Linked DNA regions of Homo sapiens. The protein of the gene in region 2 interacts with the protein of the main gene of each other region in a biochemical or structural test. Each region holds a gene or a part of one and is shown on either strand. Other genes may lie near its edges. The genes, in order: LMO4, RLIM, SIN3A, POLI, ESR1, SMAD7 and UBE2D1.

Region 1 (3,500 bases), on a different chromosome or scaffold from region 2:
AACAGGTAAACCTGGTTTTTCTGCAGTTCTCCTCCCTAACACCTCTAAATTTATGCCATCTTATACTATAAAAGATGGTATGAAATCCTGCTCATATTTCTTAGGTGTGCTTTATACTTGGTCCCTACCTAACACTGCTATTGCCTGTATTCAGTGCTTCACAATCTAGCAACATTTTCCATCTCATCTCTACATCCTTTCATTCTCACCATGCATGCTGGTGAACTGCAACAATCATTTTTTTGTATAGTACTTTGCTAAGTCAGAGAAAGAAATGGTATAAAACCAGCAACAAAGTGAAGCTCTAACTCGGGGAAAAATTAAGCTTTTACATCAGAAGGAGTGGAGAGAAGGTCTACCATTTTATTTCTAGCATATTTTTTCTTTTTTGCTACCAAGTGTAACTACAAACAGCTTTACCTCTATTCTGAATAGGTATCTCCAAATATTTATGTTGCTCATTCATTGTTCTCAACTCTGCCCTGCAGATTCACTTCATTAGAATCCAAATCACAAAAATCTTTAAGCATTTATATGTCTTGGCACTCCTTGAAGAAGCTTGAAATACCTCATCAGCAGTGACTGGTTAGTTTGCAATTAAAAAGTTCAACTTTTATTCTTAAAATGGTTATTCTATGTAGCTCCCCATATTAGTAAATTAAAGTGCACATAATGTCATGTAATTAACACTAAGAAACAGAACATACATTTAAAATTACCTCATAAACTTGAGCAAGGGAAAAGGGCAAATATAAGCATCAAAATATGGCAGCATAATTTTAATGGTTAAAAGTTTTCAAATATTTGTCAAACCCCCACCTCCACCACCGCACTAAGAAAATGCATTACAGAAGACAAAAAAGTCTATTTTTTTCCCCGAGATTTTTGAAGCTTGCTAAATTCCTATTTGCAGATAAATGTTGTTTTTTTTGTGATCCTTACAACAGACATTAATGAAGTTCCTATTGTAAATCCATAAAGAATTACCAAGTGAAGTGTGCACTTTTTGTTTCAATGCAATAACTCAGTGCTGTGTGATTGCCTGGGTTAATGATGAAAAAGTCAAACATACTATCAGAGCTGATGGAAAAATCTATCACCAATCTGAAATTAAAATTCATCTGTGGTCAATAAGATTTAATATCCATGCAAGTGGCGCTGTAAAGAGTAAATGAATCAATGTCATCAATACATAATCAGTATGAAATATGATGTGAATAAAATTATGCACACGAGTCATACATTTCACTCTTTTCTGGGCCGGTGTGGAATGAACAGTCTCTTAACTGAAGGTTGACAGTAATTGTTACAAATTAGGCACAGCAGTTATCAAAATGCACTCACTTGCATAGCTATAGGACTTATTAAGGAGATTAAAATAGATCTAAAACTATCCAGTACTGGGGGTGCTGGACAACTGTTGATCACCAATTTTCCCTCTGGAATATCTTCTAATACTACATGATTTGTATACTTGTATAATTTCCTAATTTTTAATTCTGGTACAAGGATTTTCAAGTTGTGGATCAAGAATCAAGATACATAATTTCTAATGGCACTATTAATGGCACTAAGCGGGTTAGCAAGAACAAGAACTTGGTTTTAAAAGCCATAACTTATTCAAATGTTATGGTACCGCCAATGAACAAAAATGCCCTCTTATGAAGTTACAGAATGTTTTGTAAAATTACTCTTCTAAAAAGTAAATGAATTGTAAATTGGGTTTGGAAGGCAGGTGTCCAGATTGCTATTCCTAACGCAGAAATCATTCTTTCATAACAAAGATCTTTATTCTCTTTTCCTACCATAAATGTTCTAATTTTTCTTCCACAATAACCTATCACATCATGTTTCTGAATTTCAAAATTGTCAAATGGAATAAATAACCAGTTATATGGAAGCTTTACATTTTGTTTGCTTTTGCATGTGATAATCTTATGTTCAACGTGAGTGAAGCTACAGATATAACAAAGTCAGGATTTTTTTTTTAACTAGAAAGGATTCACAATTTAATCAGCTATCCTACTTCTGAACACTCTATGTACAACTAGTAATCTACATTTCTTTAAAAGGGCATGCAAAAATACAACCACCCAAGAAAACTCTCTTGCTAGGTTAAGAGGTTGAACCTTCCAACTTGCTCTAATAAAGCTTATTAGTAATTGCTGGGTATTCACCTTCTGGTCTGGCAGTAGTGGATTGCTCTGAAGTGAATTCAAATGGCCATTGATGAGAGCTGTAGGTCTATCATGTTCACAAAATAAACTGCCATTGATGTAGTGAAACCGATCTCCCGGGACCAGGCGATTCCGGCAGGTAGAGCATGTAAAACACTGAAAGGGAAAAACAAACCCACTGAAAACAAGGTAAAAATTAAGTCTTTTTTTGGTCACAAGTTTATAACCTGTTATTAAGCAGGTATCTGTCAAGTACAGAGACACTTAGGGTTTAGCGTTTTTTCTTCCTTTGACAGATCTCCAGAAAACAGTAAGCCAAATTGCTATCAACTGGACCAGGCTAAATGGGGACAAATCCAAATACATGTGTACTTCTGTCTGTGGCATAGGGGAAGCGTGGTCTGTGCATGTGGATGTGTAACCATCACTGCCATGCTACAATTTCAATCATTCCTTCAAGTGTCTGCAGCTTGAGAAAACAGTTCATACCAAGGAGAAATGCTTTGCCCCCATGTAGGTAGGAAAGGTATGATTTTTTTTTTAAAAAAAAAAGAGAGATGCAAATACTACCTTAAGATGATACACATTGCCTTGCGCCCTCATGACGAGTTCACTCGCAGGAATCGACTGTCCGCAAGCGCTGCAAGCACCGCTATTTCCAAATAACCTGAAACAAAGAATAACGGTTGACACCAGTGAATAATCCTAAACCAAAGAAAAAGAAAGAAAAACACCCCCAGACTCTGGGCATCCCTTTGGAATGCATTTGACAGGCTGAATTCTTAGGCTCAAGCCTCAGATTTTCTGAGTGATTTACATAATCTGGGAAAAATCCTTTTTGTGGGACAACAAACTTCTGCCTACCGCAGAGGATGCCCCAGATTTAATCAAAATATTGACTTACACCTCTAGCAAATACAATTCTGTTCTACACACATTTTATCAGATTACTAGGTTCATCATAAAAAAAAAAAAGATACAATTCATGACTGGAGTTTAAATGCATTGTGTCCTTGAAATTATATGAAGAACTCTTTTGTACTTTAATCATATCTTCAGATATGAGTCATCAAAAGGGTTAAGAGGATTTGATTGTATATCTAAGAAGACATCATGCTCAGTGTATTGAAACTCCCGTAAACCTCCATCAGTGCAGACTTTCCATTAGAAACTCTCTGCTATCCAGGTTGATATATAATGTGTATGGGTTAACCTTTTCAATCATGGTGTCAACACTTAAGATTTGCCTCTGCTCATCTCTTTCATCCTAACCTTCTCTCTCTCTTGATAATGAAATGCTTGCTCCAACTTCCCTCTATCTGC
Region 2 (3,500 bases):
AGGTAGAAAAAAAATGCTGACATTCTAAGTATCAAGAAAATGTCAGTTTTCTTTTTATGAGCAGTTACTTAGCACCAAATTAATTTGTGCCAAATCTGGATAATCTTTGGCTGACATTTACTATTACAAAGTTCCTATCATCCCATCGTCTATCCACCTCCCCACCAAAACCAAAACATACCTCTATTTTCATCTGAGTTTTGCGGTGGTGGGCCTTCTTTAATTTGCTGTAGTCGTCTCAGCAACTCTTCCTCAGTACTTTCACCTGAAATTTAACACCACAGGGCAAAGATGACATTAGGGGTATGACAATCAAATACTTTATCAGTGACTCACAGTAATCTGACACAAGATGATTAGAAAAAAAATCATATTTTTAAAAGAGAAAACTTTTTCAAACCAAAAAGAAAAACCAAGGAGTAGGTAGGTCCTGGGAAAAATTCACTTCTTTGGAAACATATTAAAAGCAATTTACAAAGTTCTTTTGCATATAACATCTAACTTTGGCTCACGCCTGTACTCCCAGCACTTTGGGAGGCCGAGGCGGGTGGATCACCGGAGGTCAGGAGTTCGAGACCAGCCTGGCCAACATGATGAAACCCCATCTCTACTAAAAATACAAAAATTAGCCAGACATGGTGGCAGGTGCCTGTAATCCCAGCTGCTTAGGAGACTGAGGCAGGAGAATCGCTTGAGCCCAGGAGGCAGAGGTTGCAGTGAGCAGAGACTGCACCACTGCACTCCAGCCTGGGCGAAAGTGCAAGACTCTGCTTAAAAAAAAAAAAAAAAAAAAAAAGGCAAAGGCAATTCTAAGCTGGGCGCACAGTGGTACCACATCTGTAGTGCCAGCTCGTTGGGAGACTCAGGCGGAAGAATCCCTTGAGTCCAGCCTGGGCAACATGAGACCCTGTCTCAAAAATAAATAAGTAAGTAATTTTTAAGAATTGCAGCTTTGAGAGGAGGATATTGTTATCTGCATTTTAAAATTAAGAAACAGACTGAGCGACAGACTGGCTTGCCAGGAGCCACACCAAACAGCAGGGCCAGAACTCCACCTAAAGCATTCTGATTCAAGCCTGGTATTGTTGGCTAAAAACACACTCCCTCTCTTAAAAGTCATGCTAAAACCTTACCTTTTAAAATCTAAGCAATTACTCAAAGGTAAGTAGAATTAAACAGAAATGAAGAGGAAGACAGATACTGACTTTTAACTAGGATCAAATGGGACTTAGTGGGGTAAAAGATAATTAAGCACAAACTTCTAATTGCTATGTTACCCAAGGCTAGCTCTGGAGGATTACAACTGGGACATATTCAGAAAATCAGAGATAACAGAATAAGTCTTTCCTAAAAACTAAGTTCCCATTAGCTATTCCACACTCGGATTCTTATCTAGTAAGTTAGATAAAGCTAACTAAGAAAAAAAAGATTTAGCTCCATTCTTTTCAATTCAGTTCGCTAAAAATTCATAATTCATAAGTTAAAAATCTCTCTGATATAGTGTAATTCCAAACATCAGTAAATATAATCAGGTAATAAATACAGCAATAAATGTCATTCCATATCCCCTATGTTAAATAATATTTCATAAGGGCTAAAGAAATGGATTTTTAAAACAGGTTCAAGCATTTTTTTTTAAACCAGCAACTTACACTTATAAATCCTTAAATATATGTAAGCATACCTGGGGTGCCTAGCAAATTGTTATCTCTCATAAGCCTATAATCTTCTTCACTCAGGTTATTTACAAATTGATAGAAAGCTTCTTCTCGATCCAATCGGTCCATCTGACTTCTGCGCTGTGCTGCAGACTGATCACCACTTCCTTTGTCATTGGAATCTGAGTTTTCCATATTGATGAACAAGTGGAAAATACCTGAAAAGAGAAAAGAGACTAATCTTGAAAATAAAGGTCACTATGTATTCTATACAAGTTTTAATTATGTGAAAATCCAGAATGTAGGTCTAGAGATGGATTTTCAGACCTCAAATGAAATTTCCTAACAAAAACTCCTGAAAAGCACTGTTATATTAAGAGTAGGTCAAGGGTTGGCAAACTACAGCCCTTGAACCAGACAGGGTTGGCGAACTAAAGCCCTTGGGCCAAATCCAGCCATACTGTGGTATTTTTTGTTTTTTGAGATGGAGTCTCGCTCTCTCAACCAGGCTAGAGTGTAGTGGTGCGATCTCAGCTCACTGCAACCTCCACCTCCTGGGTTCAAGTGATTCTCTGCCTCAGCCTCCCGAAGTAGCTGGGACGACAGGCACCTGCCACCACGCCCAGCTAATTTTTGTATTTTTAGTAGAGACAGGGTTTCACCATGTTGGCCCAATCTGGTCTCAACCTCCTGAGCTCAAGTGACCTGCCCTCCTCAGCCTCCCAAAGTGCTGGGATTACAGGCATGAGCCACCGCACCCAGCCTCGTGCTGCATATTTTTATTCTCCTTGCAACCTAAGAATGGTTTTTAGAGACTATCTTGTGACATATGAAAATGCAATGAAATTCACATTTTAGTGTTCATAAAGTTTTATTGGAACGCAGCCATACACATTCATTTACATGTTATCTATGGCTGCTTCTGTGCTATAATGGCAGAGTTGAGCAGTTGTGACAGACTGTATGTGGCACTCCCATTGCTTTGGACTGCTGCTCTGTGCACTCTTAAGTTGCAGTGATGTAGCTATAATGACAGCATTTCAAGTGCCTTCACACTGGACATTAAAAAAAACTGAGTATACACTCATCATCTCAAACAAAGAGAAAAGTGGACTCTGAATGTCACGCTTAAAGGTGCAGCAGAGGATGGGTTTTTCAAAAATCAGATTAGATGGCAAAGAATGCATGATTATGCAAAAAATACTATATACTAAATACAATATATACTGACACTATTAAACACTAGTGACAATATTCCCAATTCACAGGAAAACTACAGTTCAAAAAGTTAGAAAATTTAAAGTGAAATCTCATCACAAAATATTTCTTCACAAAAATAAAAATGAGGCTTCAATCAAAGTAAATTTCCCAGGGGCTCATTTATTGGCTAAACGAGGAAAGCTGTTTATTGATGGTGAGTTAGTGAAATTATGTTTGAGTGCAGAAGCTGAAGAAATGTGTCCAGAGAAAATAAACATAATATTGGACTTTTGGTAAGTATAGTGGTCCAAAAAGCTGGGAATATTGAAAAGCAATGTCACTAATCAACTGAAAAATAAGGTAAATGATGGAGTGGTTTTCTCTTTGGCTCTTGATTTGTTGACAAATGTAACTGATACTACTTAAGTTATTGTTTATTCAAAGAGCCAAGTGTTGATTATTCAAGGAGTTTGAACTGCAGAAGTAGCCCCTATGTGTAGTCTACATGAAATAATCATAGGTGAGAATATTTTCAAAGTTGAGAAAACTAATTCAGCAAAACCTGAAGCAGAATCTCATAATAAGATATGTTACTACTGGAATGGTAAAAATATATATGGAATGGAAAAAGACCTAGTTGGA
Region 3 (3,500 bases), on a different chromosome or scaffold from region 2:
GTGCCTGTAATCCCAGCTACTTGGGAGGCTGAGGCAGGAGAATTGCTTGAACCCAGGAGGCGGAGGCTGCAGTGTGCCGAGATTGTGCTACTGCACTCCAGCCTGGGCAACAGAATGAGACTCTGTCTCAAAAAAAAAAAAAACAAATTGTGGCCAAGTATCTTTGAGTCTAAAACTAAATGGCTTTGGAATTTCAGAGTTCGTGTGTTAATTTTAAAATGCGTAGATGATCTGTTTTCCTGTTTAGAGAAAACCTAGTAGAAAGTGAAATTTTGAGTGAGGTGGCTCATGCCTGTAATCCCAGCACTTTGGGAGGCCAAGGTGGGCGGATCACCTGAGGTCAGGAGTTCGAGACCAGCCTGGCCAACATGGTGAAACCCCACCTGTCCTAAAAATACAAAAATTAGCCGGGTATGGTGGCGCATGCCTGTAATCCCAGCTACTTGGGAGGCTGAGGCAGGAGAATCACTTGAACTCGGGAGGTGGAGGTTGCAGTGAGCCAAGACCCCAAGATTGCACCATTGCAGTCCAGCCTGGGCAACAGAGTGAGACTCCGTCTCAAAAGAAAAAAAAACATGAAATTTTTTCTTAACAGGGTGTTTGTTAAGCTTACAGTTTATCACTTTTCTTTTTGTTTTTTATCAGCATCGACACCCCAGGAGTGATTAGTCGTGTGTCCCAGCTATTCAAAGGCCACCCCGATCTGATAATGGGATTCAACACCTTCTTGCCCCCTGGCTACAAAATTGAGGTGCAAACCAATGACATGGTGAATGTGACAACTCCTGGCCAGGTTCATCAGATTCCCACCCATGGCATCCAGCCACAGCCTCAACCACCACCCCAACATCCTTCCCAGCCTTCAGCCCAGTCAGCCCCAGCTCCTGCCCAGCCAGCTCCTCAGCCCCCACCTGCCAAAGTCAGCAAGGTGAGCACTTGGAAAATATTGCATCAATATGAATGCATCCCTAGAGAGCACCTTCCTTTGATGTTTCCCCTTTATATAAGACTTAGATACTGAGAAACAAAGTTACAAAGATTTCGTCATAGAAAAATGCTGTATGAAAACTTCACTATGACATGGTTCACATTTACACATCACTTACTTAGGTATCTATTTAAATCAACACAGCAACAACTTTCAAGGTCTTTCTTTTTACAGTTTCTGCTTATAAAACCATGAACATCCCAACAGGTGGTGACTTTGTGTAGTAGTAGTTGACAGCACAGATAGAAACCATCGTCTTATCCTGGTCAAATTGTGCTGCTGCCCACATGGTTATTTTATGAAAGTTATTTCACTAACTAGATTATATCAAGCTAAGTAGAAGATCTAATGAATAGTGATAGTGATGGTGATGAAGATGGGGTGTTCTTGGTCTAGAACCACACTGTCTGACACAGTAGCCACTAGCCACATAGGACTATTTAAATTAAATTCAGTTTTTCATTTGCACTAGCTTTCAAGTGCTCAGTAACCTCATGTGGCTGGTGGCTATGTATAAGACAGTGCAAATAAAGGACATTTCCATCATCTCAGTTCTACAGGACAGAGTTGGCGTAGAAGACTTTTTTATGTGGAGCTACTGCAACAGTTGTCTTGTTGTTGACATCAAAAGGCTATGTAGAATGAGATTTTTTCTATGTGTACTTGTTGAGCTACTAAGCTAAAACATTGCATATGAAAAATTCTTCCCTGTAATTGGAGATGGCTCCAGTTTTAAGGTTTTATTTAGAAAATGTGAGACTGAAATATTTGTATCAGCATGTTTGAACCGCCTACAACTCCCACTGCTGCCCAGTATGATTTGTGTTGGACTAAAATGACCTGGCCTGAGTGAGTAAATAAAGGATATACGTTGACACCTTGTTTCTCTTTAGTTTGAACTTTCCTTGTATCAACTCATCTATGCATCTGAAGAGAATAAAGATTTCTTTTCTTTCTAGCCCTCCCAACTGCAAGCACATACTCCGGCCAGTCAGCAGACTCCCCCACTTCCACCGTATGCATCCCCACGTTCTCCGCCGGTCCAGCCTCACACACCAGTGACAATCTCGTTGGGAACGGCCCCATCCTTGCAGAACAATCAACCTGTGGAGTTTAATCATGCCATCAACTATGTTAATAAGATCAAGAACAGATTTCAGGGCCAACCAGACATCTACAAAGCATTCCTGGAGATTTTGCACACATATCAGGTAAGGAGTGCCCATTCAGCCTGTCTTAACCAGGTCACCCTCTTAGGGCATCTAGTCCAATAACAAGTAACCATTATTGTGTCCATTAATTCATACTGGAAATTAACCAGTTAGAAACTATCATGCATGTTTTTAAAGCCAGTTTGTTTGTTTGTTTGTTTTTCGAGACGGAGTCTTGCACTGTCACCCAGGCTGGAGTGTAGTGGCACGATCTCAGCTCACTGCAGTCTCCGCCTCCCGGGCTCAAGTGATACTCCTGCCTTAGCCTCCCTAGTAGCTGGGATTACAGGCTCCGCCCACCACGCCCAGCTAATTTTTTGTATTGTTAGTAGAAATGGGATTTCACTATGTTGGCTAGGCTGGTCTCGAACTCCTGACCTTGTGATCTGCCCACCTTGGCCTCCCAAAGTGCTGGGATTGCAGGCGTGAGCCACCGCCCCCATGCTATAAAGCCAGTTTTATTTGCCTGACTTGATTGCCCTGCAACATTCAGTCAGGATTTTTTTTTTTTTTTTTGAGACAGAGTTTTGCTCTTTTTGCCTAGGCTGGAGTGCAATAGTGCAGTGTCGGCTCACTGCAGCCTCTACCTCCCGGGTTCAAGTGATTTCTTGTATTTTTAGTAGAGACGGGGTTTCAACATGTTGGCCAGGCTGGTCTCAGGTGATCCACCCGCCATGGCCTCCCAAAGTGCTGGGATTGCAGGCATGAGCCACCGTGCCCGGCCTCAGTCAGGATTGTTAGTCACTGTCCCATGAAATGAAACTCAGTTTTATCTGGGACAGTTAGATGGTGATTTATATAGTCTAGTTAATGTACAGTAGGAGGAGGAGAAATTTCTAAGGTTTTGTCAGTTGGTAGTGGTCCCCTGGGCATTAATATTTATTGCCCTAGGCCGGGCATGGTGTCTCACGCCTGTAATCCCAGTACTTTGGGAGGCCGAGACAAGTGCACTCCAGCCTGAGCAACAAGAGTGAAACTCCGTCTCAAAAATATTTACTACCCTAGTTTTGAAAGGAATTGTCATCCACCATCTTCAACTTTTTTTTTTTCTCAACTTGAAAGTCTGTGGTCAGAACGGGTGCTAAGAACATAGACTTTCTTCTTACATGCAGCCTAAATAGATAACAGTGATTCCAGAAAGCGTGCAAAGATGAGTGACTCAAAACAGTAGCCCAAATGATCTCTTTTCATTTGCAATTCCTCAGAAAGAGCAGAGAAATGCCAAGGAAGCTGGAGGAAACTACACTCCAGCATTGACAGAGCAGGAGGTGTATGCCCAGGTTGCTCGTCTCTTTAAAAAC
Region 4 (3,500 bases), on a different chromosome or scaffold from region 2:
GCCCTATATAATTATATGTTTAATAAATGTATCTTGCTTATGAAGTTGATACCAAGAAAGAGGTTAACTTCAGGAATGGAGGCTGGGCATGGTGGCTTATGCCTGTAATCCCAACACTTTGGGAGGCTGTGGTGGGGTATCATTTGAGGTCAGTCTGGGCAATATAACATAGCAAGACCCTGTCTCTACAAAAGTTAAAAAAAAAAAAAGTTAGCTGGTAGCATGTGCCTGCAGTCCCAGAGGCCGAGGTAGGAGGATTGCTTGGGCCCAGGAGGTCAAGGCTGTACTGAGCTGTGGTGTGCTACTCCACTCCAGCCTGGGCAACAGTGAGACCCTGTCTCATTAAAACTACAGCAACAACAAAAACCTTCAGGGACGGGATAATTAGGGATTTGTCCTGTGACCTAAAATCAGTCAATATTTAGTGATCCACCAGCTTCGTGCATGATTCTGTATTTAACTTGCTTTTCTATTTAGTGCTTAAAGCCTTATCCTTTATTTTTCTTATGTAGTATTCTTTTGATAAACTCTTGTTTTCTACATGTTACTTTGCATATCAGGTATATACTTTTGAAAATAAATTGCCGAAATTGATGAAGGAAATGCAAAACAATCATTTTCTTTGATTAGACATATTGTCAGTCTGTCCTGAAAGGAGGTAATAGTTTTCTCTAGGTAATAGTTTTCTCAGGAGTGATTTTTGGTGTTTGCCATGTCACATTGTTACCTTTATTGGTTTCCCCTCACATTGTCAATGTTGACATCAACAAAACAAAAAAGCACCTTTGGTGTTTGTGAAAAAACATGATCTATGTGGAATGAGATAGTCCTTTTATTTCTGAGCTTCAGATTATATGACCTTAAGAATCTATGCATTTTTGTATACTAAGAGACTTGCATTTGTTTTCTCTTATCCAGCTGGTGTCAGTAGAAAGTGATTCAGAGGGAAGTGAAAAACTTTCTCAATGATTTTAAAGTTATTAGTCTCAATGTTAATATATGAAAATTGATAGTTTTTTTGAATTTATTTTGAATTTTGGTTCAGCTTAATCTAGTAAACATTTGACTTGAGGACTAGATATTGTGCTAGACGCTGGGCATTTGAATACCTGTAAGTTGTGGTTCATCTCTGCCTCTCTGTCCTAAGGAATATTCTTGGGAATGGCTAATAAAAATACCACGTTATAGTATATTTTGAAAGTTGACTGACTTTCTGTTTTATTCAGTAATAATTGGACATTTTAAATATTATTTTGTTTTGCCTCTTTTAAACTCTTGGAGAAAATATAGCTAAAATATACTATTACTTGTTTTTAACTTTCCTGAGCAGCCTATAGTTTATTCTTTGACACATTTCTTCAAGGTCACCAATTTACTATAAGCATTGATATTTAATGTACTACAGATATAAAAATTATAGGTGTAGAAGATTGAGCTAGATATATTGCCATGAATAACTGCCCTAGGAATGTCATTTTTAGACTTTTTTGAAAATATTGCCTTTATACAAGATGTGGTACAGAAAAAACGTCAATTAACTGAGGGCTTTATTAAAGATATTATGGAACTATGAATGTATATAAAACCTTTAACAATAAATTTGATAAATTTTTAAGCACTAGATAGTTAAATTTATCCTAGTTATAACTTCATTTACATTTGTGCTCCAATATTATTTCAATTTAGAATTACTGGAAGAATTTAGTCCAGTTGTTGAGAGACTTGGATTTGATGAAAATTTTGTGGATCTAACAGAAATGGTTGAGAAGAGACTACAGCAGCTGCAAAGTGATGAACTTTCTGCGGTGACTGTGTCGGGTCATGTATACAATAATCAGTGTGAGTGGGTTCTTATTCATTCTACCTACTAACCAAAAGTACATACATTTCTTAATGTTCAGTGAGTTCGCTGTGTGATTCTGAAAGATTCATGACTTTTGTTGGAGGTATAGTTATATTTAGTCAGTAATCTGTCTAGGACAGCTAAAATTAGGTGCTGCTATTCCATAATAAGTGTTAAGATTTTGATGACATGTAGCTCAATGCTCTGTGCACTTTTCATTTGCACAGAGCATTGTTCCTGTTCATCTGCACAGAGCATTCATCTGTGCAGAGTTTTCGTCTGACACAGTGCATTGGTTCCCATTTTAGAAAGCCATACCCAGCTGGGCACAGTGGAGCGCCCCTGTAGTCCCAGCTGTTTGGGAGACTGAGCTGAGAAGATTGCTTGAACCCAGGAGTTTGAGTCCAGCCTAGGCAACAGAGCAAGATCCCATCTCTTAAGGAAACAAAAAGCCATACCTCTGTAGGTCATTCTTAAGTTGTAAGAGTTGGCTTCTTAATATGCTTTTTGGAATAATTTTTTATTATTCTAAAACAATCTCTAAGCAGAGTTTTCAGGTAGGCTAGATTTGCCTTTGATGTGTCTTTTACATGTTCCCTTCGATTCCCCTTTGATGTGTGTTTTACATGTTCACTTCGATTCCCCTGAGACCCTCATGTTGCTCTCTGAATTCCCAAGTTAGCACTTTTGGAATGTTGTCCAGGGCTATCTGCCATGTGCTAGAATCTTCTCCAAGCTCCTATTTAATCTGTTCAAATAATCTTTGTCAAAGTTAGCAAGAAAGCAGAATGGTTTGTCTCCTTCATATATTGAGATATGAATGACTGATGGTGTTTCCAGTGATATTTACATTTGAAAATAAGCTGCAGTAAGCACCAGTGAATATCTGATTAGGCTTTCAGACATCTTATGACTCTGCTGGTGACTCCCCTATCATACCACATACAAGACAAGGTACTCTGCTGTTGTGTAAGACTTGTCTGACCCTTTTGCTCTTAAGCCTCCCCATGCATTTCCTCTTATCCTCTTTTTTGAGAACTAGACATCGGTCTACAGAATAGTTCTCCACAGAAGAAAAGCAGTAGAACCACAGTTTCTAGAATACATGGAGCTTTTCCTGTATCTTTTGTACTTGTGCTCATTTGTAACTTAAAAGGGCTAACTAGCAAGAATATTTCAAATATATTTCTGTATAATTTTTAAGGCAAACTTGGATTTTATTGGTTAGAGTACATTATAGAGAGCTAGGTTTTATATCCCAAAAAGGGAAATGTGGAATTATTGATTAATTCTTCCTCTTTCATACAGATTTTATTAAAATTTTTTGTAAACCTACAGAAAAGTTGACAGAATAGTACAAAAAATACCCATTATGTCTTTTCTTTTTTTTTTTTTTTTTTTGAGACAGAGTCTCACTCTGTCGCCCAGGCCGGAGTGCAGTGATGTGATCTCGGCTCACTGCAACCTCCACCTCCTGGGTTCAAGCAATTCTCCTGCTTCAGCCTCCCGACTAGCTGGGACTACAGGCATGTGCCACTACACCCGGCTAATTTTTTTATTTTTAGTAGAGACGGGGTTTCACCATGTTGGCCAGGCTGGTCTTGAACTCCTAATCTCAGATGATCCGCTTGCCTTGGCCTCCCAAAGTGCTGGGATT
Region 5 (3,500 bases), on a different chromosome or scaffold from region 2:
CATATCTGGTATCAAAAATCTGCATCTTCATACCCTTCAATCTACCTTCTTTGTATTTATTCCATATCAAATGCAACGGCCAGTCTTGAAACTTATTTTGGAAAGCTGAGGAGTAGAATTGAAAGCTACTGTGATCTTTCTCCCCAGCACTCCTTTTACCCTCTGCTTCTGAAATCCAAGAGGCCCAAGGAAATGAAGACTTGGAAATCTAGCAGACCTGGGTTTGAATAGTGCTCCTCATGGTTAGAACAACAGCAAAACCTTGAGGCACATCACTAGTCTCACTTCCCTCCATGTCTCCATCCTGAAGACTTGGAAATATCCTCCATCTAAAGTCATAGGAAGAGTAAATGAGCTTTAACTGTAAATCAGTGAGAAAAGCCCCAAAATTTGTTTTGTTTGTTGTTTTTCTTAACTACTGATTCAAGCTTCGACCCAGAGCAATTGTCAGAACTGCTGAAATACAACCTGGATCTCAGTAGTTTTTTAATCATCTGGGTGATTCTGAAATAATCCTTGATTTGGATATTCCAACCAACGTGAAAAAGACGTCCTTGTAGATGCTCCCTAAGTATGAGCTTCCAACTCCTTCTTTCTCACAGTTCCCATTTTTCCAAATTACAGAAAAATTCCTTCCTTGCCCTCTGTACATCATAGCTTCTCCATAAGCTGCTTACCTCAGCTTCAATTAATTCCCTCTCTGGGATTGCTTCAGTCCACAATACTTAATGCCCCTCACTCTTTTTATTGATTGATTAATTTTTACTGATTTGGAGTGCCTTTGTTTTTGTTTTTGTTTTTTTGTAGAGACAGGGTCTCACTGTGTTGCCCAGGCTGGTCTGGAACTCCTGGACTCAAGCAATCCTCCCTTCAGTTCCTCAAAGTGCTGGGATGACAGGCATGAGCAGCTGCACGCAGCCAAATTTGAAGTTTTTTTTACAGTTGTTTTGTTTTGTTTTTGTAGCACAGTACCTGGCATGTAATAAGCACTTCAAGAAATACTAGCTTCCTGCTTCCTTTTGGTTGCAGAAGTTTAACTTCTAATCACAATAGGGTATTAAAGTTAGTCACTTGAAGGCAAAATAAACAAATATAGGGACATTCCAGACCCGTAGAGAATTCCCATACTCACCTTCTTCAGGGTATAGTACTCAATTCCCTTCCGAAGTAGTAATAAAAAATAATGACTTGTTATGTGCCAGGAATGTTATAAGCCCTAGACATCTATGAATTTGTTTAATCCTCACATCATCCAAACGATGTAGCTTTTACAGATTAGGAAACTGAGGCACACAGTTAAGCAATTTGCCAGTGATGACAACTACACAGGAGTCACGCCAGAATAGAAATATAGCTGCTGGCTCCCAGACCTGTGCTTTCATCACTCTATTATACAGAATCGATTCTCATTATTCATGGTACTCATGTTCTATAAAGTCACCTCAAACACTGAATTAGCAAATACTGAACCATTGCATTGAGGGGAAAATAGGGTAGGTTCCTGGGAGCCTTTGGTCACAGCATTTTTGCCAACTCATTAATACATAACCTTGTTTTATATGTTTTTCTGTTCAAAAACACTGTATTTAATATATCCTGTTGATTCACCATCATTGAACTCATGGCCAACAGCATTGTAACTCATGCCTGAATAAAGCTTATCAAACACGTATTTTCTCTTAAGACACGTCAGAGCCTTGTCTTAGAATCCCTAGACAGTACTTCAGGACCATGCTTAGGGGCCATTTTAAACAGCAAAATCATCAACAGGGATTATGAAAATGCAAAAATCATAACACGAAGTAGATAGCAAGAGGGACACTTGTTTATAGTCTGAGGGCTGCAAGGAGAAGTGAGCCTTGCTCAGCCTCAGCTGGGAACATATACGTCATATAACTCAAATTTTTTTGCCATTCCACACGTCTGCAAAGGACTGAGAAAGCACCGTGAGTGTTGACTCGAAGGTTACAAATAAACGTCAGTAAGTCAGCGAATTTGCAAATACAGAATCCATGAATAATGAGGGCCGACTGTACTTGGAATGCTGTGTGGAGTCCTTTTTCTACTTTTGTTCCTGAGAAAGAGAGATTCACAAACTTCCCACATTCTTCCAGTGGCATCTAAGGATCCCTTCCTAAATGGCCTTTCTCCCAGCCAATAGACTGAAGCAAACCATGTCCCTGATGCTTCCTGCCCACCACCATCCATTCTTTCAACCAACAGCTTCTCCGGGCTTTCACGTGCCATGCACTTTGCTAAGAGCTTGAGGGAAATACAGCAATGAAGAAGAGATGATTTCTGTTTGGACCAGTGCTCAGGGATTCCTCCTATTAGAAATCAAAGAGGCTTCCAAAAGCCCTACAATTTTTTCCCTGTAACTAAAGAAAATAGCTTCTCAATGTAACTAAATTTTATCTCATACGCAAATTGGAATGTATACCCTTTCACTCTGAATTGCTTGAAATATTCCAGGAGAAATAAATACAACTCTGTGTAAGGTCTTCTAAAAAAGCAGAAGTCAAAGTCACCAGAAAGAACCTTTAAAATCAACTATGTTTCTGACAATGTTGCTTTCGAAACTGTTACCCCACTCCCGCAAAATCACCATTGAAAAATACCTTTGTGGTGTAATTAAGATTAATCATGAATGCACTGAATGTTCAGAAATGAGTGTTTTTGTTTTTGTTGATTAAGTGGGAAGTTACAGTTAGCAAAAATGCCTTGTACACGTTCACATGGATCTAAAACTCCTGAAACCAAGTTTACTGGGAGACAACAGTCAAGACTACACTGTTAGTTTACACATGCAGGAGATTCTGGTATTAGAATCTCACCTATTCATGCTATAAGACTTCCCAGCTGCTAGGTGCAATGCTGTTGCATGAACTGCTGGGAAAACAAAACCACACTTTATATAGTCTAAGCCCTCAATGAATGACTCAATTTGGAATAAGGTAGCCAAATGAATGAATGAACAAACTTTCAAAGAAATTCTACTAATTGAAAATTTCTTCTTTATTTTGTTGAAGTTTCTATCCTCAGAGACAAGAAAAACATCACTTTTTGAAACTTTTAATCTAGTTAATACCACTCTGAGTTATTACGGTATATTCTTATACTGGCTGAGGTAGGAACTCTGTTTAGCCCTGTTCCAAATTTCATTAAAATAACAGATGAGACAGGTCAATAAAGAAATAAACCAGAAAAGGTGAAAGAAAAATATCTGAGAATACACAGATGGAACAACTAAAACAGAAAAGAAAAAAGAAAGCTTAATAGGGTAAAAGAGGCCAAAAACTCTTTAAAGGGAGTTTAAACTTCTATGTATTAGAAAATAAAGCAAATGAAACAAGAAAATATGAGAATGGACTCAAAATTCTAAAAGACCTACAGAAGAAAGAGGAAGTACGCCAATGTGAAGATGACTATTTCTAACATCATTTAATTGCAGGAAACTAAAAGAGAACATTGTCTTTTGCTTTCAGGGCCATAAAAGAAAT
Region 6 (3,500 bases), on a different chromosome or scaffold from region 2:
GAGGGATTTACAAACGTTAATTAAGCCTCCCTACCACCCCTGTGAAGAAGCAAAGTATACCTGTTCCATAGGCAGCCAGGTAAACTGAGGCGTCACTGACTAGCTCAAAGGGCCACCCAGTGAGCTGGGCTATTCCCAAGAGTCCAGCCCTATCCCATGGCTCTCACTCCCCAGGCAGGCTATGGAGTCCCTACCCTCTTTCCTGGAGGTGGCCAGGCCATCCAGACTGGCCTCAAGGTTAAAGGAGCCATACCTCCATCTCTCACCCACAGAAAAGCTCCGCATAGACAGATCTCTGAAGTCAGGGTCTCACCTTAGGCCTGTGTCGCCTGTTCCCCAGAGCCCAGGCTGGCTGGCAGACAGAAGCTCTAGGCCACTCCTGACTCACGCAACACTAAGTGTTATCAAGCACTTGGTAAGCACTAGGTTCTGCGAGAGAAAAAGACTCATTCCTTTCTCCGAGCAGCTCCAACAGAGTCTTTGAAAACCCAACCCTGGGGAGCAGCCAAGGAGCGAACTATTGAGAATGAGTACAAGGTAAAGGAGCTGGGAGTCCCACGATAGTCTCAGCAACTGCGTTCTGAGCTTCCTAAGTACTGTTAAAGACAGAGGAGCCCCTACTCACCACTGTACCCCAAGGGTCCCAGCTCTGCCCCAGGTAGTTCAACCAACCCAGAACTCAAATGAACCCTGGTTATAAAAGAACACAGCACTGCCAGGTGCAGTGGCTCACGCCTGTAATCCCAGCACTTTGGGAAGCAGAGGTGGGCAGATCACACGAGGTCAGGAGATCGAGACCATCCTGGCTAACTCGGTGAAACCCCGTCTCTACTAAAAATACAAAAAATTAGCTGGGCATGGTGACGGGCACCTGTAGTCCCAGCTGCTCGGGAGGCTGAGGCAGGACAATGGTGTGAACCCAGGAGGTGGAGCTTGCAGTGAGCCGAGATCGGGCCACTGCACTCCAGCCTGGGCACAGAATGAGACTGTCTCGGAAAAAAAAAGAACACAGCACTGCATCGGAATCCTCAAATTTCTAGGTAGGCACATCATCATGCCTGTAAAATGAATGACTGAACCAATGAATGAATAAATGAATGAATGACCTAATCTCTTTCATCATGCTGATTTTAAAAGAGGCCTAGAAAAGTTAAGAGGGACCTCGGTTAAGAGAGAAACGCAGTGCCAGATCTCAGGTCAAGACACCAGACTTCCGATCTGGATTTGCAGGCTGGATCTGCCCATGGATACTGGCCACCTGGGTCCCTCAAGAGCTCACCCAGCAACCCCCCAAGGCCAGCCATTCCTCAAACCTTTCAGACCATCAGATACAATGAAACACGGGAAGCAGAGCCCACACAGCTATCCCCGAGATCCAGCTTTAAACAGCAAATTCTGACTTCTTGTGGGATGTGGAGGTGGGGGTGTCTTTCTGACTTCTGACAGCCACAAGTCACAACTGGCCTCCCCTAGGTTCAGTCATGTGAACACTCTTTCAAAGAAGGCTCTCCTGGTTGGACCACACAGTACCTAGGTGTCTAAAGTCCAGGCCTCCCAGATGCTGAGTGGAGTGGCTTAAATTATAGCAAAATGGAGTTCCTAGCTTTGAGCCCTCTGTGTCTCCAAAGGCTGCAGGGTACCAGGCCCCAGCCCCATTCCCACCACCTTTTCCTAAGATGGAGACTTCACAGGATGTATTCCTTTAGTTGTGCAACTGGTTAAGATTTTAACAGTTGTCCACTGTAAAACTTTGTGCCTGTTTCATCTAGTAACCCAAGACCAAAAATTCAACCTAAGGGACATAGAAACTGAAGAATGTAAATGGTCCATGTAGATTCCCGGGCCAAACATTCTCCCATACGCAAAATGGGGATGAAGACCTGGGTCAGCGCCCATCTGTGGTCTGACCTCAATGCCCCCGGCCACAGCAGCTGGCAAAACCAGCCCCAGACCTGTGAGGGGGGCGGGGGGGGTGTGCTCCAGCTCCAGACCTGGCTGTCCTCCAATGTGGCAGGACAATTCCCTTCGTGGGGGCTTTGTCTATTACTGATGCTAAATTCTTACACAGCAGCGCCTTTTCTCATTTCTTTTTTTGTTCTATTTTCAACAAAACGTTTTGGGTGAGTAACCAGCTGTCTTAGTTTCCGATTGGCAGGTTAATCACTTCCTATTGGCTGATCTGGAGAACTTTTCTCCCCCTTGGAAATGGCACATTCCTGTCTTTGTGGCTTCTCTGTTTACACACATTTTGCTACCTAATGTCAACACTTGCTAATGAATAAATATATCACTCCACTCACCGAAAATGAGGCCCTGGCCTGGCAGAATGACTGCTTAAATCCTGAGAACAGATTTATCCCAGTGTCTCTGCAGGAAACCCAAGGGAACATGGCCTTTCTTTTCTATGGTTTTTGGAGGTTTCTGGGAACATTTACCCCTGCTGGTCTTTATCCCTGGGGCTAAGGTCACTGTTCTCTCTCTTTTAAGGAAAACCTCCAAATTTGAAGAATATGGAAGGACAAAAAAAACAGGTCAGAGGTGGCCCCTTGGAAAATGAACTTCATAAAAGAATTCTTGATTCTTTAAGCCAAAACCCAGTCAAGTTACAGTCTTTAGGAAAACAGAGCTTGGTAATTCCAGTTAACGTTTGTTACAAATACAGAGAGCTGGGTATCTCCTTATTAATAACCATTTATCTGGTGTTTTGTAAATCGAAAGCAAAATATCACATGCTTTGCGGGCCACTTATTAGACCGGCACCAGGCAAGCAGGAACGCCTTCCCAACTTGAGGGAGCTGGTAGAGTCCCAGGAGGACTGGCTGCAGAGTATGGGCTTCGGTTACACGTTCATTAAAGTATTTAATTTATGACAACGCCCCAGCAAAACTTTTAATTAGTGGGGGGAAAGGCCCAACAGCCAAAACGCAGGAGGCGGAAGGACTTGCAGAATTCCAGGAGCTAAATGGTGCCCAACCCTTCACTTTTCCTTCTCCCAGAACCTTGGCAAAATAAAAATGTCCCAAGTATTAATGTTTTTTTCAGGCACCAGTATACAGGCACAAAAACCAAGGTTACATACAACCTGTACTTTTAGCAAACAGATCTATCTCCTACTGTAAGAGGGAGCTCCAGGAATTTGGGTTTGTCCTTGTTGTCACCCCCAAGTTCATTTTGCTGACCCTGTCCCCAGCACTGTGATGTCCAGAGGATGGACCCCTGTGCTGCTGCCGGCCAGAAGTTGAATGCAGACAACCACAACAGGGCTGGTGCCAGTCTCAAATGGGCTTCTGCCATGGCTTCATGCCAGCCAGTGACAAAGCAGCAGACAGGCAGAGCTATGCTTCAAACTTTGATAGTCCCTATGGCGAATACTGAGAAAACCCCGGGAGAGGACTGACTTGCAGGTGACTGGAGCAGGAGGAACCTACCCCCCCCCCCCTTTTACTGGCTGTTGCCTATACTTCTGAAAAGTTCTAGTGTCTACTCCAGACCAAAGTCTT
Region 7 (3,500 bases), on a different chromosome or scaffold from region 2:
GAACCTTCAAAATACTCTCATTTAAAGGCCCACCCTTACCTTTTGAATTATGGCCTTTCACAAATATTTTTTAGGTGAATCACATGTAACAAATGGTTATAATCATGTTATTCATAACTCCCTTACTTTAGTAATGTAAATATTTACAGTACTCTGGACCATATCTGTCATTGTAATTTATCTTCATTTTCTATATTTCTTACAATTTTTGATAAACTAGAATTGTTTAAACAATATATATAGTAAGAATTATTATACAGGAAAATCCTCTAGCATATATGTGGAAACTTAACGAGAAAGTAATGAGTCTTGGTGTTATTACCAGAATGCTAATATAACATGATATATTTAATTAAATATGAAAGAATTAAAATAGAATTGTAGGTATAGTTTGCTAGCATTTTCTTTTTTTAAAATTTTTTTGCTTGTAATGTTATATTTTCTAATGGCTATAAAGAAACATGGTCAAATTTAAATTTCTCTAGTAAAGTTGATTCCCAATTTGATAGTAGCATGAATATATAATTTTGTTTTGGATTTTTTTGGGTTCTCTACATTATTTTATAAATAATTACTAAACGAAGATTTGGCACATAAATTGTGTAGCAGGGTCCTTAGCATTTTCTTTTCACGACAGCCTCTTCAGTTCATCTCCATTCTTGGTCATCAAGTGAACATCAGAACTTAAGTTTTACTATCCTCAACCCTTTTTCAAAAAAAATACTGATTACGGCTGCAGAAAATGATCTTTTCCCACAGCAGTCGTGTGTATACTGATCTTTAACAATTTGTACTCATAACCAGATTTGTTTGGACAAGTCACAGCACTGTGTGTGTCCTGTTTTTGTTTTGTTTTAAATTTTATGATGTCGGCATAGTTGTTGGAAAATCCTCCTTCGTACCTGCAGAGAAACCTGTTCTCAAAGTAAATGATTTGAACTTATGACAAAATGGTTGCATTTTTTTCATATTGGTAATATTTAATGAAATTATTTTAAACATGATGGCATTTTTTTCAAACTGATAATATTTGGGGGAAATAATTTTGTTGTTATAAATAAATATAGTAATCAAATGCTGATGCAAATCTTTTGTAATTTCAGCCTGATAGCGCATATCAAGGTGGAGTCTTCTTTCTCACTGTACATTTTCCGACAGATTATCCTTTTAAACCACCAAAGGTATTTTTATTTTTATGATTGATGTGACTCCCATGTAAGAGATTTTATTCTTTATCTAGAGCTCATTTGATTATCTAGAGCTCATTTGATATGTCAAAGACTGTGGGGAGGTTAGCATTTTCAAACTGTTTTGTAAAAACTACTGAATCTAAAATCTGATTTCTTATTGAAATACTGTATTAAGTCTATAAAACAAAAGTCAGTACGTGTCATGCTATAAATTAAATTCCTTGCTTTTCTTTTCCTTCTTATTGGATATGTGTAGTTTGGGACGTTTTTATGATTAAGAGTCAGACTTTTCTATTCATGGGATTATCCTTACAAAGTTGATCATTCTTTCTCTGTTTTTTTTTTTTAAGTATTCAATAAACATTCACCGAGTACCTACTGTGTTCTTCTACACTGGGGAATCCGAAAGTAAATATGAAGCAGTCCCTTAATTTAGTATGGTAGGAGAGAGAAACACATGTTAGATTTAGATTTGCTCTAAAGAGGAAACAAATGATGGGGATATCAGGGAGGGGAAAAGTGGGCAGATTTTGTCACTCAGGATATAATTATTTTAAATAGTTAAAAACAGATTAACATTGTATTTATGAAATGGTATGACAACTCTTGTGGAAAATTAGGATTCTTAATGGATTTCTTAGCTGAGACGCCTCAACTTTGCCCTGAAACAGCGTCAGCACCCTGGTTTTAGATCCAAATGTTACTTCCAGGTATCACCAATAATCAAATTAAGAAAAGGATTACTTCTACATATGATGGAAGCCATGGTTAATTACTTTAGATGCTGCTCAACCAGTCATACCGGCTACTAGAGACTTATTTATTACACTGTCCAAAATACTCTTCAGTTCCTTTGAGGGCAAAAGAAGGAAGCTGACTTGTTTGTGTTCACATTCTCACTAGCTAGAACTGTGTGTAGCACAAAGTAGATAATTATTTGATTTGTGTTGATGACTTTTCTCCTCTAAAGTTATGTAAAGTTGAGGATATTTTACCCTAGAGCAAATTGGTTCTGTTTTATTCATAGTTGATTCAAAGGTGATTGTCATATTTTGTTGTTTTGTTTTATGTTTAGATTGCTTTCACAACAAAAATTTACCATCCAAACATAAACAGTAATGGAAGTATTTGTCTCGATATTCTGAGGTCACAATGGTCACCAGCTCTGACTGTATCAAAAGGTAATTTCATTGATCAGGTTTGAAACAGTTGATAACAGTGAGACAGGAAAAATACAGCAGAATTACCTATGGACTAAAGTTTTAAAACAACAATCAACTGTGCTTTCTCCTGTTTTGATTTTGTTTTGCTCTCTTTGCTCTTATGTTACTATGGCTTTTGGCAGTTAGCTTTGGTTGAGGGGAGTGTGGATGGACAAATCTAAATGATGAAATGAGAAAAAACCTTAAAATATCAGAGCTAGAAATTTGGGGATAAACCTATTGATATTTTATCCTTTTAGCTTGGGTGTTGTCTTTTAAAAAAGAGAGAGTGCCCGGGCACTGTGGCTCATGCCTGTTATTCTAACACTTTGGAAGGCTGAAGTGGAGGATTGCTTGAGCCCGAGTTCGAGACCGGCCTGGGCAACATAGGAGACCCCATCTCTGCAAAAGAAGAGAGAGAATAAGAGATAGTAAAAGGAAGATTTTGGGACTGGTTGTCCCATTCATTAAATGGAAATGTTGACAATAATAAAGCTTTACAGCTGTTTTACTTCATCCAAGAATAAAATACCAGATTTGATTGATAAATGATTTAAGATGAAAGACATTTCACACTGTAGGATAATGCAGTACATATAGCATGTTAGTCTAAACTTCGAATAATCAGTAGCATCATTATAGTGACTGACACAAGATCTGTGCTGATTCTCAACTTTTACAGGGGTATAGCTGTTCTTTGCTGGATTATCAGGTGTATACATAGGCATCTCAAGCCATTTTATTTCATTAGCCACTGCTACTTACTGTGCTAGCACTCTTAATTTATGTCTTGTTTCTCTGAAAGAAGAGAACCTGACAGTTGGAAAATACTGTTTAGGTTAGAAGTAGCTGCACTGAAGCAACCATCAAGTTTTCCGTTTTTATAAAATTGAAGAAAATGTTTCTCTTGAAGGGATTTATGGAAGCAATCTGTACTCATTTTTTATTTTTAATAATTGCTACTTGAATATACAGCATGTTTTTAAAAGTAATAAGGTTTATAGGAAGCAGGGTCCACAGCCGTAGCTCTTTCAAATATTAGATAAATAATAGCTCTTTCAGTTCAATTATTTATGAACGATAGTTTTTCTGACCTAAGATGCTCATC

What was found.
Region 1: of the proteins of RLIM (region 2) and LMO4, one has a biochemical effect on the other in vitro, tested with the Homo sapiens proteins (one study listed by BioGRID).
Region 3: the proteins of RLIM (region 2) and SIN3A form a complex in vitro, tested with the Homo sapiens proteins (one study listed by BioGRID).
Region 4: the proteins of RLIM (region 2) and POLI form a complex in vitro, tested with the Homo sapiens proteins (one large-scale study listed by BioGRID).
Region 5: the proteins of RLIM (region 2) and ESR1 form a complex in vitro, tested with the Homo sapiens proteins (one study listed by BioGRID).
Region 6: of the proteins of RLIM (region 2) and SMAD7, one has a biochemical effect on the other in vitro, tested with the Homo sapiens proteins (one study listed by BioGRID).
Region 7: the proteins of RLIM (region 2) and UBE2D1 form a complex in vitro, tested with the Homo sapiens proteins (5 studies listed by BioGRID).

The regions. Positions count from the first base shown.
Region 1 is NC_000001.11:87,338,880-87,342,379, reverse strand, and holds part of LMO4 (LIM domain transcription factor LMO4), read right to left. Parts: intron 2,845-3,500; coding exon 2,748-2,844; intron 2,334-2,747; coding exon 2,178-2,333; intron 1-2,177. UniProt on the Homo sapiens protein: Transcription cofactor. Plays a role in establishing motor neuron identity, in concert with MNX1, acting, at least in part, to disrupt LDB1-LHX3 complexes thereby negatively modulating interneuron genes in motor neurons.
Region 2 is NC_000023.11:74,594,125-74,597,624, forward strand, and holds part of RLIM (E3 ubiquitin-protein ligase RLIM), read right to left. Parts: intron 1,877-3,500; 5' UTR 1,854-1,876; coding exon 1,685-1,853; intron 266-1,684; coding exon 182-265; intron 1-181. UniProt on the Homo sapiens protein: E3 ubiquitin-protein ligase.
Region 3 is NC_000015.10:75,410,191-75,413,690, reverse strand, and holds part of SIN3A (paired amphipathic helix protein Sin3a), read left to right. Parts: intron 1-645; coding exon 646-928; intron 929-1,947; coding exon 1,948-2,199; intron 2,200-3,404; coding exon 3,405-3,500. UniProt on the Homo sapiens protein: Acts as a transcriptional repressor. Corepressor for REST. Interacts with MXI1 to repress MYC responsive genes and antagonize MYC oncogenic activities. Also interacts with MXD1-MAX heterodimers to repress transcription by tethering SIN3A to DNA.
Region 4 is NC_000018.10:54,276,017-54,279,516, forward strand, and holds part of POLI (DNA polymerase iota isoform a (long)), read left to right. Parts: intron 1-1,686; coding exon 1,687-1,839; intron 1,840-3,500. UniProt on the Homo sapiens protein: Error-prone DNA polymerase specifically involved in DNA repair. Plays an important role in translesion synthesis, where the normal high-fidelity DNA polymerases cannot proceed and DNA synthesis stalls. Favors Hoogsteen base-pairing in the active site.
Region 5 is NC_000006.12:151,814,182-151,817,681, reverse strand, and holds part of ESR1 (estrogen receptor), read right to left. Parts: intron 1-3,500.
Region 6 is NC_000018.10:48,944,466-48,947,965, forward strand, and holds part of SMAD7 (mothers against decapentaplegic homolog 7), read right to left. Parts: intron 1-3,500. UniProt on the Homo sapiens protein: Antagonist of signaling by TGF-beta (transforming growth factor) type 1 receptor superfamily members; has been shown to inhibit TGF-beta (Transforming growth factor) and activin signaling by associating with their receptors thus preventing SMAD2 access.
Region 7 is NC_000010.11:58,362,506-58,366,005, forward strand, and holds part of UBE2D1 (ubiquitin-conjugating enzyme E2 D1), read left to right. Parts: intron 1-1,103; coding exon 1,104-1,181; intron 1,182-2,265; coding exon 2,266-2,371; intron 2,372-3,500.